Regions from separate parts of the Homo sapiens genome. Here region 2 is linked to region 1. Evidence: fine-mapped expression QTL. A gene starts in region 1. The other region holds a variant in brackets. All regions are shown on one strand. Distances are from middle to middle.

Region 1 (8,676 bases):
AAATTAGCCGGTGTGATGGCACACACCTGTAGCTACTTGGGAGACTGAGGTGGGAGGATCGCTGGAGCCTGGGAAGTCAAGGCTGCCTGAGCCATGATTGTGCCACTGTACTCCAGCCCGGGTGACAGAGCAAGACCCTCTCTCAAAAGAGAAAAACCAAACATTTCCTGCACACCTACAGAATCAACATCCATGGAGGAAAGAATGGAAGGCAGACCCCAGCGAAATGCTCAGCACTCCAGGGCCCCTGGTTTGCTTTCCTCCCAGCACTAAGCCCACCTGCATTTACTTACCTCCTTGTTTATTTACCAATGCCTCCCTCTGGGAACTCTAAGCTCCAGGAGGCTGTTCTCTGCTGAATCTATGCCCTGAGCAGCCCAGTGCTGGCACAGTCAATGAATGAATGAATAAACGAATGAATGAATGAATCAATCAATCAATCAATGACTCAGTTCTCATGACAGAGCAAGCCTTACACTTGATGGAAATAGGGTCTTTGCAGCGGTATTTAATTAAGGACCTGGAGATGATCCTTAACTAAGGATGGGCCCTAAATCCAATAACTAGTGTTTTTACAAGAGAAAGGGGAGGGAGCCTGGTGTGGTGGCTCATGCCTGTAATCCCAGCACTTCCGGAGGCTGAGGCAGGCGGATCACCAGAGGTCAGGAGTTTGAGAGTAGCCTGGCCAACACGGTGAAACCCTGTCTCTACTAAAAATACAAAAATTAGCTGGGCATGGTGGCATGGTAGTGGGCGCCTACAATCCCAGCTACTTGGGAGGCTGAAGCAGGAGAATTGCTTGAACCTGTGGGGGCGGAGAATGCAATGAGCTGAGATTGCACCACTGCACTCCAGCCTGGGTGACAGAGTGAGACTCCACCTCAAAAACAAAAACAAAAATTAGCTGGGCATGGTGGTGCACGCCTGTAATCCCAGCTATTAGGGAGGCTGCGACAGGAGAATCACTTGAACCCGGGAGGTGGAGGTTGCAGTGAGCTGAGATTGCACCAGTGCACTCCAGCCTGGGTGACAGAGCAAGATTCCGTCTCAAAAGAAAACAAAAAAGAGGCTGGGCACGGTGGCTCACACCTGTAATCCCAGCACTTTGGGAGGCCGAGGTGGGCAGATCACCTGAGGTCAGGAGTTAGAGACTAGCCTGACCAACATGGCAAAACCCCGTCTCTACTAAAAGTACAAAAAATTAGCCGGGCGTGGTGGTGGGCGCCTGTAATCCCAGCTACTCCAGAGGCTGAGGAAGGAGAATTGCTTGAACCCAGGAGGCAGAAGCTGCAGTGAGCTGAGATCACACCATTGCACTCCAGCCTGGACAAGAGTGAAACTCCGTCTCAAGAAAGGAAAAAAAATAGAGAGAGAGAAAGGAGAGGGAGATTTGGACGTGGAAATGAAAGCCATGGGGAGGTACATATTGGAGTGATGCAGCCACAAGCCAAAGAGCCACCAGAAGCTTCAAGAAGCTCCTCCCCTAGAGCCTCTGGTGGGAGCGACACCTGGACTTCAAGCTTCTGGCTCCAGAACTGTGAGGGAACAAATTTCTGCTGTTTTAGGCCACCGAGTTTGTGGTCTTTGTTACAGCAGCTCTGGGAAGCTAATACAGTCACACAGATAAAAGGGGGTGTGTCTTGGACTCATAATGAGGAGTACACGGCCAGGCCCTGCAGAATGACACGCCTGTCCCCGACCCTGCACAGATCTGTTGTCCTAGGGGGCCCTGGCAGGGAGCACCGCTAGGAGCAGGAGCATGCAGACAGGGACCAGAAGGGGTGCCCTGCTCCCTGCAGTTTCCACTCAGGGACTTGGCTGGTGAAGCCAGTTTGCCTTCTCTTGGCTCCATCTCCCACATCTGCTGGGGAGGAGAGCTGGGGCGCAGGCTCTGCTGCATCCTGTGCAGGTGATGGATGAGCTGGGCATGTCTCCTGGGTGCTCTCTCTGCCCTTCTGCATCTCTCGGTGGGGGGTGCTGGTAATACCTCGCTGGGCTAGGAGAGTGGCAAAGTCAGTTAAGGGCAGTGAACGGGGCTGGCCTGGGGCCTGGCACATAAGAGGAGTGCAGGAAATGGCCGTGCCCCTGCTGCCTGGGGTGGTGGGAGCTGATGTAGGCCTAAGGGCTGGGAGACCTGGAGCCCTGCAGGTGCCGCGGGGAGGGGCTGGCATTTCTCTGCAATCTGCCAGGCTGCTGAGTGAAATCTGGTGGGGCGGGGGTTGCTCAGGCAGAGTCCCCCTGAGGCCTCCCTGAACTCTGAGAAGACACTTGAGACTCAGAGCCCACTCCAGGGTCACCCAAGGTTGGGTGAGGGCAGTGTCTAAGCCAGCAACCAGCCAGTGCCCCCACCTGTCTGGGGACCCGCAGCAGGACGCCCCACCTCGGGGGTGGGAGGGAGCTCACCAAGTGGCTGTCAGTGGGTGCTCAGGAACTGACTGATTCCTGTGGAGCCCTCCAAATGCCATCCCTACAGGGACACCCCGACACTGGTCCACTGCGTGAGTCTGGGGTTGAGCTGTGAGGTACAGAGGACTTACTATGTGCTAAGCACTGTGTTGAGGGCTTTATTTTGCATGTTCAAATTTCATCCCTACAACAGCCCCATGAGGTGGGCACTGTTATCTGCCCGTTTTATGGATAAGGAAATTGAGGACCTGACTTGCTCAAGACCACAGAGTAGGGAAGAGGCAGAGTTGGGATTTGAAATAAGTCTATTTAACTCTTTCCTCTAAATCACGGCAGAGATTCAAGGACAGAGAGATGGCTTTCATCTCAATACTGGAGGAGAACACTGCTCTTCTTTTTTTTTGAGATAGGGTCTTGCTCTGTCACCGAGGCTGGAGTGCAGTGGTGGCATCATGGCTCATGGCAGCCTCGACTTCCCTGGCTCAAGTAATCCTCCCATCTTGGCCTCCCAAAGTGCTAGGATTACAGGTGTGAGCCGCCGTGCCTGGTGGAGAACACAGCTCTTAAGACACTGTGCAGTCGTTGGGTCAGGGAGATTTCCCAACAGGAGTCCTTCCTTCACTGTTCCCACACCAGCCCTCCCCACAGGGAGGAATGCGAATACCCACTGACGGAGAGGGAAACGGAGGCAGGCATGTGACAGCCCTCTAGCAGTTTGCAACTCAGAGACAGAAGAGACCACGTTTGAAGAGGGTCTCGCTGGCAGCCCTGAGCCCACCATGACGCTCACAATGCATTCAATGAACTGAAAATAACGTGTGTCCAAGTGACAGCCGGGTTCCCGGTGGCCAAGACCACAGCCGGTGGAGCATCTGGCAAGATTTTACTGCCAGGTGTGGGCGCGAGAGGGGCAACGTCCACAGCCTCCCCCGAACAGTGTCCACAGCCTCCCCCGAACAGTGTCCACTGCCTCCCGCGAACAGCCTGCCTCACTTTCTCCTGCCTCTCATTTTCCTAGGGAGCAGAGACGCTGGGGAGTTCCACTAAATAAACCGTCTCTTTTCCAGATCCCGGACTTGCTCCTCAAACAAAGCTGGGAGAAGGGGCTTCCCAGGCCCCTGCTTGTCTGGGAATGACCCCTGGAGGAGAGTCCTCTAAAGAATGCCTCGCAGCTGCCGCACCCCCTGCTGACAGCTGGAGGACAGGGGGCCTCTCAAGGGAAAGCCGAAGGGAGCTTAAAGAGACACAGGAAGCCTGCGCGACCCACCCACTGAGCCCCGAGGCTCCCGTGCTCAGCCGCAAAATGGGAAAAATACTTCCTGCTCCGTTAGCCTCCCAGGTTGTCACGAGCACCGCAGTGGAGACGTGGAAAGACCCCGGGTAGGAGGCGGGCACGCGGCTTCCCGGCCCACCCCGCCGCCCACCCGCCGGGCGCTTCTGGGCCAGCCCCGGGCGCTGGCGGGCCTCGCTCCCTTCCCTGGGTTCTGGAACCACGCTGCACTGAACTTTCCTCCAGGCCCGCACCACTCCGGCGGGGCAAGTTCTTTGCAAACTGTGAAGCGCCGCGCCGCCTTCGGCAGCGTTCCTGGCTCGGGGCGGCCCCTAGCCCGCGGACGGCTCAGGGGTCCCCTCCCCCGGCTCCAGGGCCTCCGGGTGGCCGGGAGGGCGCGGCCTTACCTGTTCCAGGTGGCGTTGGCGCAGGCCCGGCGCTGCTGCGTGCCCCGCTCGTCCGCGGCGGCGGCCGGCTCTCTCTTGCCCAGGTCACTGAGGCTGGGCGAACTCATGAACTTCAACCTGCGGAGAGTCCTCATGGTGACCCGGGCCGCCTGCGCCGCGCCCACGCGCGCCCCACGCCGCGCCCTGCGCCACGCCGCACCAAGGGCCCCGGGCCGGCGATGCGCCCTCTACGCGGAAACTCCGGCGAGAGCAGGAAGCCGAGCGGTCCTGCGGGGTCCCGCCCCGGCCCCGCGCCTCCGTCTCGGGTCCCGCGCCGGCCGCCCCGCCGGGTTAATCATTGCACGGAGAGGCTCAGCGTGGAGCGCCAGGCGCGCGGCCAGCACAGACCCGGCGCAAACGGAGGCCGGGGGCGGACCCGGGGGCGGGCCCAGGGGCGGGTCTCGGCGCCCCGGGGGGCGGGGCGGGGAAGGGGGCGGGGGCATCGCGGGCGGGGCGGGGCCTCAGGCGAGGGGGCGTGTGCAAGAGGCGGAGCCGGCGTCTCCGCGGCCGCAGCTGCCACGACGCCTCGCTGGGTCTGCCCTCTGAGGACGTGCTCACCCTCCTCCCCTCTTCCGAGGGCCCCACGTGCCCACAGGAAACCAACACGCACAGGACGCAGGGCCCAAGCCCAAGCGCCCGCCCCCCGCCCAGCACTGCGGTCGCGCCCACACGATGTCCTTCGACCCCGGCCCCGGAGGTCTCCCTCCACAGCCCTCCTCGCAAAGGCTGTGCCACAGAGGTGCCTCCGTACCCCTCACCTGAACACAGGCTCCCCCACCCAGTTCTCATGAGGACTTTGGGTAGAGGCCTTCAGTCCCCTCCAGGCACCTTGGCCCAAGAACCCACTCCACCCGGGCTCAGCCTAGACCCCCTTGGACAGGGACTTCAGCATTGCCTGGCTGCCTGGAGGATTTGCTGGAGTGAGGGCTTGAAGAAGTAGAGGGTTTGCTCCTTATCTCCCACCCCCAGGTCTCTTGGATGGTAAAACCAAGCAGTTTCCCAAGTCCCTGTGGTGGGGGCAGAGTGATCCCAGTGAAGGCAGGGCACAGCCGGTGCTTCCTGCCTGCTTCGCAGAGCACTTTTAGATGTCTGATTTCACATGAACTAACATGAACTACTTCCGTGAGGTAGAGATTATTCTTCTCCCCATTTTCCAGTTGAGGACATTGAGGCTCACAGAGTGAAATAACTTGCCCAACATTGTGCCAACATTGTGCAATCAACAAATGGTAGAGTTGGGCTTCACCACAGGGAGCGTCCAGCCCCTTGAACAGGGCCCTTCCCAGTCCCCAGCTTCTGGGATTCCCACAAGGCTCACCTGACCCCTCCATCAGATGGGGGGTGACAGCCACAGCTCCAGGAGCTGGGAGGGCCCCATATAAAATGTAAGAGAGAGGTGATGGCTCATGCCTGTAATCCCAGCACTTTGGGAGGCCGAGGTGGGAGGATCACCTGAGGTCAGGAGTTCAAGACCAGCCCGGCCAACATGGAGAAACCCCATCTCTATTAAAAATACAAAATTAGCTGGGCGTGGTGGTGCATGCCCGTAATCCCAGCTACTCAGGAGGCTGAGACAGGAGAATCGCTTGAACCTGGGAGGCAGAGGTTGCAGAGAGCTGAGATCTCGCCACTGCACTCCAGCCTGGGCAACAACAGCAAAACTCCGTCTCAAAAATCATCATCATCATAATAAAATAAAATAAAAAGTAAGAGAGCCTCATGAAGAGTCTTTGTTTAGTGCAAATCAACCAGTGTCTCCTGAGTACCTCCTGTGTTCCAGACATAAATACCATCGTCTTTGGGAGACAGAGACATAAACAGACAAACTTGCTCATCAGTAAAGCGGGATGGAACGGTTCATCTCACAGGCAGCTTGGGGCCCACAGGCAGCAACAGGTGCTTTATAAACTAACTGTCAAGTGCTGTACACGTTTTCTTTTCTTTTTGAGACAGAGTCTCACTTTTTGGCCCAGGTTGAATGCAGTGGCACCACTGTGGTCACTGCAGCCTCTACCTCCTGGGTTCAAGCAACCCTCCCACGTTAGCCTCCTGAATAGCTGGGACTACAAGGCATGTGCCACCATGCCTGGCTGATTTTTTGCGTGTGTGATGGCGTTTCGCTCTTGTCGCCTGTGGAGTGCAATGGCGCAATCATGGCTCACTGCTAACCTCTGCCTCCCAGGTTCAAGTGATTCTCCTGCCTCAATCTAGTGAGTAGCTGAGATTATAGGCACCTACCACCACGCCTGGCTGATTTTTTTATTTATTAGTAGAGATGGGGTTTCACCATGTTGGCCAGGCTGGTCTTAAACTCCTGACCTCAGGTGATCCTCCCACCTCGGCCTCCTAAAGTGCTGGGATTACAAGAATGAACCACTGTGCCCGGCTCCCTGGCTAATTTTTAAAAAATTTTGTAATAGAGACAAGGTCTTGCTATGTTGCCCAGGCTGGTCTCAAACTTCTGGACTCAAGGAGTCCTCCCACTTTTGGCCACCCATAGTGTTAGGATTACAGGCATGAACTACTGTGCCTAGCCCACGCTCTCAAACTTACGGGAACACTGTATCTTTTAGATCCCAAACCAAATTTCATGGCCAGACAAGGATTTCCTACCTTACTGCTGTAAAAAAAAAAACAAAAACAACAACAAAAAACATATAAAAATACTAAAGCATGTACTGAATTGTCTCTGAAAAGAATGAAAACAGAGGATAAAGCCCAGATCCTTGACTCCTCGGAGGGGCCTTTGAGACCTGCTTGCCCTCCAGCTGCGGGTCCCTCCCCTGCCCTAGAACGTCTTTCAGAGAAGTTAGTTGCCCCTGTCTCTGACCGCCTTCACTCTCAATTAGGCTCAGGGGGCGTCCTGTTGTCACCCGATGACTTTTTTTCCATCCTATGCCATAAGCCAGGAGGGCAAGAACCGTAACAACTTGTTCACTGCTACAGTCCCCGTGCCTAGCACAGACTGGGTGCTTCATAGATATTTGGTTTAACGGATGGATGAACATTTATCTCATAAGAATAAAGGGATTACATTGGACCCCACTGGTGAAAATGCCTCATAAAAGTGCCCAGGCTGGACAGATGTGAGCGAGAATCTCCGTCATGGCCACTGGTGTAAACGCAGCAAAGCAGAACCGCCAGGGATCCGGATGGGATGAAATGGTTTCCCACGCCGGAGGCTGGCTCTCAGGAGAGGACTGGCTTTGTGGGCTCAGCACAGCCTGGTCCCAAGCTTGCTGACCACAGGCAGGGCCTGGCTGGCAGGAGGGGCCAGCTCCAGAGAGGGAGGGAGGCCTGACTGCTTGGGATAAGAAATCAGAGAGAAATGGGCAGCCCGAGGTGGGAGGCAGGAGGAGGGAAACAGGGGGCTGGGAATGCTGTAGGCATCTGGGAGAAGCGGCCAGCCAGAAATTCCGGAGGTGGGGATGGCTGAGGAATTTTAAAGAGATCTTTAAAAAAGGCATCTCTAGTCAGCGTTAAGGAATTAGCTATAACCTCTCCCTGGCCCCAGCCACAGATGTGTAAAATCTGTCTACACCCAACAGCCCAGCGCCAGGAGGGCAGTGGAGGCTCAAGCAAAGGTGCTAGTGCTCTGGGTTTGGGCCGTGACAGGCAGAGAGGGCACAGCTGCGGGGCTGCCCCGGGGCCAGAAACCCCAGGCAGAGGCCACAAGGGGACAGAGCTGTCACAAACCCTCAGAGCAGGGGGCAACTGGGGGACAAAGGGCGGAGTCTAGCCCCTAAGTGTGCTCTGTGTGGCCTGCAGCGTCGGAGGAAAATAAACCAAACTGCGTGCGGCCAACATCTTACAACATTTTACAACGGAGAGATTGACACAGAAACCCGGATTCTGGCCGCCCTGAAGCATCAGGTGACAGTCTTGCTGGGCCTGAGCCCCACGTGACAGCTCCCACCCGGCTACTGCCCCTGCCAGCAGGCACAAGGCCTCCAGGTGCCCACCGGGCCCTCCTCTCACTTATGGGGCTTTCTGGGTCTGAGGAGGGGGCTGGGGGACCCAGCAATTGTATTGTGGCGGGGTACCCTGGGCAGGGCTCATTTGTGTCTGAGACCAGGGAAGGGAAATGTCCCTCTGTTAAGGAAATGAGAGACAAAGGGACTCAGTCACACATCCCCAAAGCCACCAGAGTGGCCCCCACTCCAGACTCATTCACACATCCCCAAAGCCACCAGAGCCACCTCTGCTCCAGACTCATTCACACAACCCCAAAGCCACCAGAGCCACCCCTGCTCCAGACTCATTCACACATCCCCAAAGCCACCAGAGTGGCCCCTGCTCCAGGAAGGTGCCAGGCCCGATGGCATCAACCACGTCCTCTCCTCCCCAGGACCCAAACTCATTCCAAACTCCCCCTGGCCAGTGGGGTGTCGGCAGCTGGTAGAGGATCCCCTTGGTCACCAAGGGGGACCCTGATATCCTCAGAACTACCCTTCTGAAGGGCCTGCAATCCCTAAGCCTGGCTCAGCCCCGGCTGGACACCCAGGGGACAGGAACAGACCAGTAAGTCAGGGCAGCTCATGAACCCGGGACTCT
Region 2 (8,676 bases), 26 kb before region 1:
CACCGGCTGTGGTCACATGCGTCCTCATCTCCCCTCTCCCGGTCCTGGGACCCCACAGGGGGAAGAGACCTGCCGACCCTCAGGCCCCTCCACCCCGTTCTCCTCAGATGACCCCGTCCCAAGGATAGAGGGCCCCTTCAGTTTCCTCTGGCAGTGAAAGGGTTACTGTCACAGAGCCCCTACGCTGTGCCTCGCTGCTGGGGGATTCACAGGGAGGGAGGCGTCCATATCTGCAGCTTGAAGGGGTGGAAACAGGCTCTGAGCAACTCAGGTAGCCCAAGGAGAGCAGCACAGAGCAGAGCAGGTGTGTGTGTCCCCAAGCCTGGCGGCCCCCCTCTGTAGAGTGAGGCCAGGGTGGGCACAGCAGGGGCACTGGGCTTCCCTCCCCAGGGCTGGGCTGCCCACCTGCACCGGGTAGAAGATGGCCTGCAGCATGGGCAGCACGTCACTGAAGAAGAAGTCCCAGGTCTCTGCCAGTGAGTCCAGCAGCTTCTGTCCTGTGGGCATGGGGGCCATCACCACTGGGCCTGACTGGCGCGGGCAGATGCCTCCACTCACCCAGGATGGGTCATCAGAGGATGCGGGAGTGGAGGGCCTGGGCTCAGGCCCCTGGCAGCACCTGCCCAAGGTCGATGTCCAGCTCCACAGCTCAGCTGTTCTATGGCCCTGGGCCCACTGCTTAACCTCAGTCTTCCATTTATAAAATGTGGCAGTAAAGGGATTGGCCTCCCAGAGCTGAGGGCATGAAATGAGCCTAAGGCACAGGGAACTTGGCTCAGGGTCTGCTCCTGGCAGATGACAGCTGCCAATTCCCAGGCCTTTGTCACATACCAGACCCACACAAGTGAGAGCCACACAGGTATACACCTGGCACAGGTGAGACGTTCACAGGTGAGACCCCTACACGTACGCCTGACACAGGTGAGACCCGCACAGGTAGGTACACTCGGCACAGGTGAGACCTGCATCAGGAGACCTGCACAGGTAAGACCCACACAGGTACACCTGGCACAGGTGAGACCTACACAGGTGAGACCCACGCAGGTATGCCTGGCACAAGTGAGACCCACACAGGTGTGCCTGGCACAGCAGTTTCAACTCACATCCTAGTCTCATCAGATCCTCCTAACAACCCGGCTAAGCAGTTGATTTCTTCTACCCACCGACCTCCTCCCTCCTTCCCCCACACTATCTGCCCCTCCAACAAACACAGAACACCTACTGTGTGCTGGCGCTGATGCTGGGCACTGGGGACCCAGCTGAGCCCCAAACAGCTGCCCATCCATCACATGACAGGGAAGTGGGACACTGAGCAGGATCATAAGGGCAGTAGCCAGGGGTGATCGACCCCCCACCAAGCAGACAGAGGCTGAGCCTCCGAGGAAAGGGTGCACCACAGTCAGTGGCCCAGAGGACCCAGGGCCAGGCCAGCTCTGCCTGTGGTCAGGTCTGGGGATCCACGGAGACCCCTTCCAATAGCAGCACCACGTCGAAGGAAGAAGAGGGTGCAGAGGGTCAGGCAGGGAGGGCTTCCTGGAGGAAGAGCATCCAAGCTGGCTATAGGAGCTGGGCTTGCCAGACGTAGTGGTATGGGGACACATCTTGACAGGTGAGTCTCTGAAACAGATACGTAGGTAGCAGACATCGGGACCAGCTCTGTAGGATTTCTGCTGGCCTTGAGAGGAACGGTGCCATGCACCAGGTGAGTGACCCTTGTGGGACGGGGACAGCTGCCCAAGCTGGCTCTGGGTTCCAGTGGGAGAGGCAACGTGAAGAACCCTTGGCCTTTCTGCCTGGACTGAGCGGAGCTGGGATGAGGGCTGCTGGGTCCAGGGATGCACAGTCCAAGGACGTGTCCCCAAGGCCTCTGCTGTCCCCTGGAAGCCAGACGAACAACTGGCGAGAGAGATCTTGGTGTGGGCGCCTCTGAGTGAAGAGGGAAGCGTTGCCGGCTGTCTCTCAGGCTGCGCCCCCGGCCAGAACTGCTTTGAGGTTTCCATGGGAATGCGGAGGCTGAACAGGGACCTTTGCCTTTTTCTCACTCTCTGGGCCCTGCCCCCACTCCCGGAAGCCCCCAGCTTCATGTAGGTTCGAGGGCACTAGGAGTGGGACCCCGCCAGGGGCAGCCCTGGGGGCTGGGGCCGAGCTGGACTGGGTCCCATCTTTGGCTCCCAGCCCAGTGGCCAGCCCTCTGCCCACCCGGGTAGCCCAAACCTGGCTCTGAGGGTGATGGGGGCCAGCAGGAATGCCCCGGACGGATGGATGCTCACCGCCCCGCCGAACTGTGCCCACACACAAAGTCCCTTCAGTCCCCCTCCGCCGCGGCAGGAAGAAAGGCAGCTCAGTTCCCGGGCTGGCCGGGGGGTGGCTCTGGGCACCGGCCAGGCCTGCGTTCTGCTCAGCGCAGGCTGTTCTCCAGCCCACGGGGCGGAAATGCTGCGGAAAGCAGATGTTGTAAAACAGAATCCAGGCCCCAGCTGGAGCCACACGGTGACGAGAGGCCAGGAAGGGCAGCCTCGCGGCTGTTGGGGCTCTCTGCCGGGGCCTGTCCTGTGGGGGCCCCTCTGTGGGGCAGTAGGGTTAGTCGGAGGCAGGTATGGGGCGACCCCAGGAAGTTCCTCCAGGCGGACTCAGTGGCATCCTCTATGAAAGGGGCGTGATACACGTCCCCACGTGGGCAGGTCGAAAGCTGAGATGAAACAGCACTGGGCGTTTGCTGCCGGCAGGACGGGGCCGGGTGTGTGCGCGCCGTACCTTGGCTCCAGCCTGGCAGTAGCAGGGGCTGATGCAGGCGAGCGGCCCCGCAGTAGCCTTGGCTCCGTGCTGGCTCCCACTCTGGGGTTCTCGCTGTGGGCGCAGGCTGGTGTCCGTCTTTCCTTTCTTTATCCGAGTGCTGAGGGCCCTGTGCAGGCCCTGCAAACCAACAACCCTGTTTCAGCCCGTCGGGAGACTCAGGAACAGTGAGGAGCGCAGGGCAGTGACAAAAGCCACGCGCTGGGTGGACCAGGTCAAGGGTGTCTGGCGCGGGGACGGCCGAGGCACAGGCATGGAGGCAAGCGTGTAAGGCAGCACAGCTGGGTCACGTGACCCATACCGGGTTTGGATTCCCTGGTGGATGAGCGACGGCAGATCCCAGGGCCCAGCAGAGGACCAGGAGCTCCCGCCCAGAGTTCCCAAGTTTCTGGCTTCCAAGGAGTTGCTTGGCTGCAGCTGGAGCCGATTCCCTTAAGCCACACACAGGCCATCAAACTACAACCCCGGCCGCGGTCCAGTCTTCCTCCCCTTCCTAGGGAGGCAGCCCTCCACCTCAAGGCCACTCCTCCAGGCTCTCCGCTTCCAGGACCGGCTCTGCCCAGGGGCTGAAGTCCAAGGCCTCCCTGGAGGCTGAGAAGGGGCAGGGGGCAAGGTCCTGGGGCTTCCCCACAGGGGGCCATCACCCACCTCTGGTAGAGGCTCTGTAGGGACAGCTGCAAGGAGCAGGCTCAAAGTGAAGAGCTCCCAGTGGAACCCAAGCAGGGGTAGGGAGCAGGAAGGGGGAGGCCCCTGAGGCCGCCCATCAGGATGTGGAGGTGGCTATGTCCCCACTGCATGGGGCCAAAAGGGACCACAAGTTCCCCTGAACAGACCACACTTTGAGGCCCTACTCAAGGGCCACTGCCTCCATGCAGCCCTCTCTGACTGCCAAGGTGGAATGAACCCTTTCTTCCCCAGGACACTCCTTCACAATGACATTAATCACACTCAACTGTCACCCTCGGGTCCGTGTCTGTGTCCCCAATTGGGCTGTGAGTCCCTGAAGGGCAGGGCCAGGTTCTCCTCCATCTCTGGGCTCCCAGAGGTCACCTGGGCCTGACATGTAGAGAACACTCAAGTGGACAGAGCCTGTTCAACCCCACATTGCTAAGACAGGGGTGCTGAGGCTGGAGAGGAAACCCTGTGTCTGCAGCTACATGGGAACTGGAGGCCAGGGCCTCAGACTCCCAGCGTAGAGCCCAGTGCCTGTCCCTGAGACCTGGGGAGGCCAGGAAGGGCTGGCGAGGCAGAAGAGGATGCTGGGCCTCCCAGGGCTGTCCTCTGCCCCTTCTGCTGGGCAGGCACCCCTGCTGGGAGGCCTGGCAGACCTGGCTGTCCCACGCAGAGCTCCTTTCAAGCCACACAAAACTCCCTTCTCCGAGAGCCCCGGCTCCCCTAGGCCAGATCTGGTGGGAGGTACAGGCACCGCCAGAATGTGCCGCATCAAGCGAGGGGCGTGGGTGGCCATCTTC[G/C]TCAGGTGCCAAATGCTCACAGCTCTGTCCTGCCAGTCTAGATGTTGCCTCCTCCAGGAAGCCTTCCCAGAACCCCCATGTCTCCCCGACGGTCTGATGGTTTTCATGGCCTCTCTTTGTGTTCCTGTCTTGGCTGGCCCCACCCAACATGTTCAGTGGACGTGAGGAAGGACCATGACACGCAGCTCCAAGGTCCCCTGGAACATGCCAGGCCTCCGGGCCTGTGTCCTTCTCTGTGGAGTGGGCTAGTAGCTCTTTTTCCCAGGGTCAGAGGGAGACCTGGAGGAGGAGCCTGGGGCAGCAGAGTGAAGAGTATGGGTTCGGGACCCGGTGGCCTGCTTGGCACCCTGGCCTTGCCACGGTGCAGCTGTGTGGCCTGGGCAGGACACCGTGCCTCACTTTCCCCATTCATTCAGTGCTAACAACGGTGGCTTCTTCACAGGGTTGTGGAAATCAAATGAGTTAGTAGATGTGAAACACTCGGGGCAGTCCAGCACGGAGGGACGCACACACCCGGTGCCTAGTGCACAGGTGCTCAACACACGGGTACAGCGCAGGCCCGATCCCAGCACAGCCCGAGCAAAGCAGCATCCGTGGGAACTGAGTGGACCCCCTCACCTGACCCCGCTCCCAGGGCAGCTCGCTCCTGCAAGGATGCGCACGCTGCTGCTGCTGCCCGAGGCTCTCGGCCACGGGAAGCCCAACCTGCACAGTGAGGCCAGCGGGGACCTCCGGGCCGTGAGAAGGGCAAAGGGTGTGTGCCCTAAAGTCAGGCAGACCTGGGTTTGAGTCCCGCCCCCACCCCTGATGTGCACTGTAGCCTTGGGCAAATCACTTATCATCACTGTACTCTCCCACTCAGGAACAATAACCTGAAGGTCCCAGTGGGTGGCTGTGAGCCTCGACAGAGAAAATTCAGCTGAGTCCCCCACCCTGTCCCCTCCTCTGTGAGTATCGGTGACCTCAGCCCTAACCGACTTCTCCTCTGACCCCCAAAGACCAGGACAGGGGCTCTCCCAGGCTGCGGGGACAGAGCTCACTAGGGCCAGAAAGTCCCGTGGGCAGGGAGGGGAAGCAGGGGGCTTTTCCCCGATGTCTCATAGCCCTCCTGGGCTCCAGCAAGTTCGGGGGGCAGACCCTCTCCCAGGGTTCCCTCTGGGTAAGGATCTCGGCCCTGCTGCCCTAAGGCTATACGTGTTCCTTCCAAGCCCTCCGGACCAGAGAGCCACACCTTGCACCCAGAGGCCCCCAGCACGAGGCCCAGCAGTCCAGCAGCCAGCCAGGACCCAGCATGGCCCAGAGTGGCCGCCAAGGGGCCCACACTCACCCTCATAGAAGCGAATCTTGTCCCGAAGGATCACCATGCCTTTTGTCAGCAGCTGGTTCTGAAGGTAAACACAGAGGGGCTGTCACCGCCCTTGTGGATGCCCGGGGGTGTCCTGGCCAGCAGGGCCCCCGAGAGTCCATCCACCAGTGAGCAGCCAAGGCTTAAAGGGGGAGGAGACTCACTGAGGTCCCACAGTCCACCTGCTGCAGGGCCTGAGCATCAGTTCATCCAGGAGGGTAACTGACCCAACCCCGGGTTGTCACGAGACAGGAGGTGGTCACACGGACATCCCGAGAGGTGGGCAGGGCCTAGAGCTCCTTGCACTGGGCTCAGCTGGGCAGGCAGAAGCCTGGCATGTCCCACAGTGAAGAAAGGACTTTGCATCAAGAGGTGACTCTGATTACCAAAGGCCGGGCCCGTCAGCTGCCATCCTACCTCAGGGACCCTGGACGCACTGCCTGGGGTGGCTCGGCCAAGAACCACGCTGTGTGGTCTCAGCAACCCAAGCACCCGCCAATGAAAGCATGGACCACAAAATGCAGCCCATCTCCACACAAAGAAATGAAGCACTGGCTTGTGCTCCAATGAGAAAGAACCTGATGCTAAGAGAAAGAGTCCAGACAAAAGTCCGCAGGCCGTGTTATGCCACCAATATGAAATGTACAGAATTGGTCGGGCGCGGTGGCTCACGCCTGTAATCCCAGCACTTTGGGAGGCTGAGGCGGGCAGATCACCTCGAGGTCAGGAGTTTGAGACCAGCCTGGCCAACATGGTGAAATCCTGTCTCTACAAAAATACAAAAATTAGCTGGGCAAGATGGTGGGTACCTGTAATCCCAGCTCCTGGGGAGGCTGAAACAGGGGAATCGCTTGAACCCGGGAGGCAGAGGTTGCAGTGAGCTGAGATCGCGCCACTGCACTCCAGCCTGGACAACAGAGCAAGACTCCATCTCAACAACAACAACAACAACAACAAAACAAAAGACAAAAAACAAAAATTAGCCAGGCGTGATGGTGGGCACCTGTAATCCCAGCTAATCAGGAGGCTAAGGTGTGAGAATCACTTGAAGCCAGGAGGTGGAGGTTGCGGTGAGCTGGGATCACGCCATTGCACTCCAGCCTGGATGACAGAGTGAGACTATCTCAAAAAAGAATTCACCTCATCTTATCATTTAACCTCCACAACATTCCACGTGGCTAGATAAGGAACGAGGCAGGTCCTTGGAACTGCAGGCAGACAGTGGGGGAGCCGGCGCTCCACACCCCCGGGGGCAGGTGAGCCCCTGTGCTTTCTGGCTGGCTCATGAGGCAGGCCCAGCCTGGCTGGAGCAAGACCCACCTACCTGCAGGTACTCCGTGAAGAAGGACCCCAGCTCTGTCTTCAACAGCTGCCTGTGGGTGGGAGGTGAGACAAGAGTGAGTCCCAGACCACACGGCACTGGCATGGGGGACCCACGGACTGGGGTGGGGCCTCCTGGGCAGGGGGAGATCAGCATGCTCAGCCAGCCCAAAAACATGGGTAGTGGACAGGTCCCACCTGTCCAGACCTGCAGGGGCTGGGTCGGCCACACAACCGGGGCCTCCATGGTCCGCAGTGGCAGCTCATCAACTAGATCCCTGCACTCATGTCATAGCAGAGGAAGCCAAGGGGTCCTCAGAGGGAAGACAGTGGCCTCTGCGTCTCACACCTTCTGGAGAGACACCTGGCAGGGCTGGGCCTGCAACACTTGGTTTGCTCCTGCCTTCCACCTGTCCAAATCCCGGATGCCACGGGCTCCTCCTCTCTCCGCCTGCAGAGCTTCTTCCCAAGTGTTTACTCTTTATTCCAGAGAAGCTCATTCAGTCTTCACCAACCCAGCCGCAGGCATTCACCGGGGTTCCCCTTTTATTACAGGGGAGGCAAGAGAGGCTCGCAGAGGTCAAGACACCAGACCAGGTCCACATGGGACACGCCAGAGCTGAGATCTGAACCTCCACCTTGGCACTCAACACTGACAATTCCTCCTTCCCTCCCTACATACCTCCAGGGCCTGAGAGAATGGGAGCACCACATTCCACACCAGCCAGGCTGAAAGTACACAGGCACTGTCAGCGCTGAGGCCCCAGATATGACCTCCCAACAGTCTTCTGAACCAAATACATCAGAAATCTTACTTTTTAGGTTGCTATTCCCTTTAGGAAAACTTTTTTTTTTTCTTTTTGAGACGAAGTTTTGCTTTGTCACCCAGGCTGGAGTACAGTGGCACAATCTCAACCTAGAGGTTGCGGTGAACCCGGGTTCAAGCGATTCTCCTGCCTCAGCCTCCTGAGTAGCTGGGACTACAGGCATGCGCCACCAGGCCGAGTTAATTTTTGTATTTTTAGTAGAGACGGGGTTTCACCATGTTGGCCAGGCTGGTCTCGAACTCCTGACCTCAAGTGATCCACCCGCCTTGGCCTCCCAAAGTGTTGGGATTACAGGTATGAGCCACCACACCCGGCCTAGGAAAACTTTCTAATCAGTCCTGAATTATAGGCAGTCCTCTCTTTGCATGGTTCTGATACATACAAGTTTCAGTTATCCTGGTTAAGTACAAGCTCTGCTGCCCGCTCTCCAGTCCACAAATCAAAATGTAGATAACAGATGTGTACAATGATCACTGACCAATTGCAACACTTCTTTCAAAGTCAGTCTCTGATTGGTCCCTAAGTATCTGTCAGCAGTTCATGCACAGACAGCAAATTGTGACCTGTGTTGCCTCCTTGTCTGCCAGTGTGAAACCCATGTGGCATTCTGTAAAAATGGATACAAGAAAAAGCAACTGGCCAACACAGATGGAAGTGCAGCACATCAATGAAAAATGATCATGTTCTGAACGGGCAAACACTGCTCAAAGTACTATGTTCCCACTGTTTTATTTTTTATTTTTATTTTTGGAGATGGAATCTCACTCTGTCACCCAGGCTGGAGTGCAGTGGTGCGATCTTGGCTCACTGCAACCTCCACCTCCCAGGTTCAAGTGAATCTCCTGCCTCAGCCTCCCCAGTAGCTGGGATTACAGGCGCATACCATCACGCCCAGCTAATTTTTGTATTTTTAGTAGAG

Evidence for each region.
Region 2: its variant is fine-mapped to the expression of PRR5 in whole blood (TOPMed, PIP above 0.99).

The regions. Positions count from the first base shown.
Region 1 is chr22:44,698,016-44,706,691 of GRCh38, reverse strand. It overlaps PRR5 (proline rich 5), which reads right to left and starts at 4,488. Exons shown (of 8, transcript NM_181333.4): 1 at 4,084-4,488. The coding sequence starts at 4,217. It overlaps PRR5-ARHGAP8 (PRR5-ARHGAP8 readthrough), which reads right to left and starts at 4,488. Exons shown (of 15, transcript NM_181334.6): 1 at 4,084-4,488. The coding sequence starts at 4,217. RefSeq lists a silencer at 4,205-4,614 and an enhancer at 6,863-7,403.
Region 2 is chr22:44,723,551-44,732,226 of GRCh38, reverse strand. It overlaps PRR5 (proline rich 5), which reads right to left. Exons shown (of 8, transcript NM_181333.4): 3 at 6,935-6,983; 4 at 5,593-5,650; 5 at 406-497. It overlaps PRR5-ARHGAP8 (PRR5-ARHGAP8 readthrough), which reads right to left. Exons shown (of 15, transcript NM_181334.6): 3 at 6,935-6,983; 4 at 5,593-5,650. Among named protein-coding and RNA genes, the nearest start is that of ARHGAP8, 25 kb to the left of the region's middle. RefSeq lists enhancers at 7,041-7,542, 8,124-8,418. The variant G/C (reference allele first, on the strand shown) is at 4,266.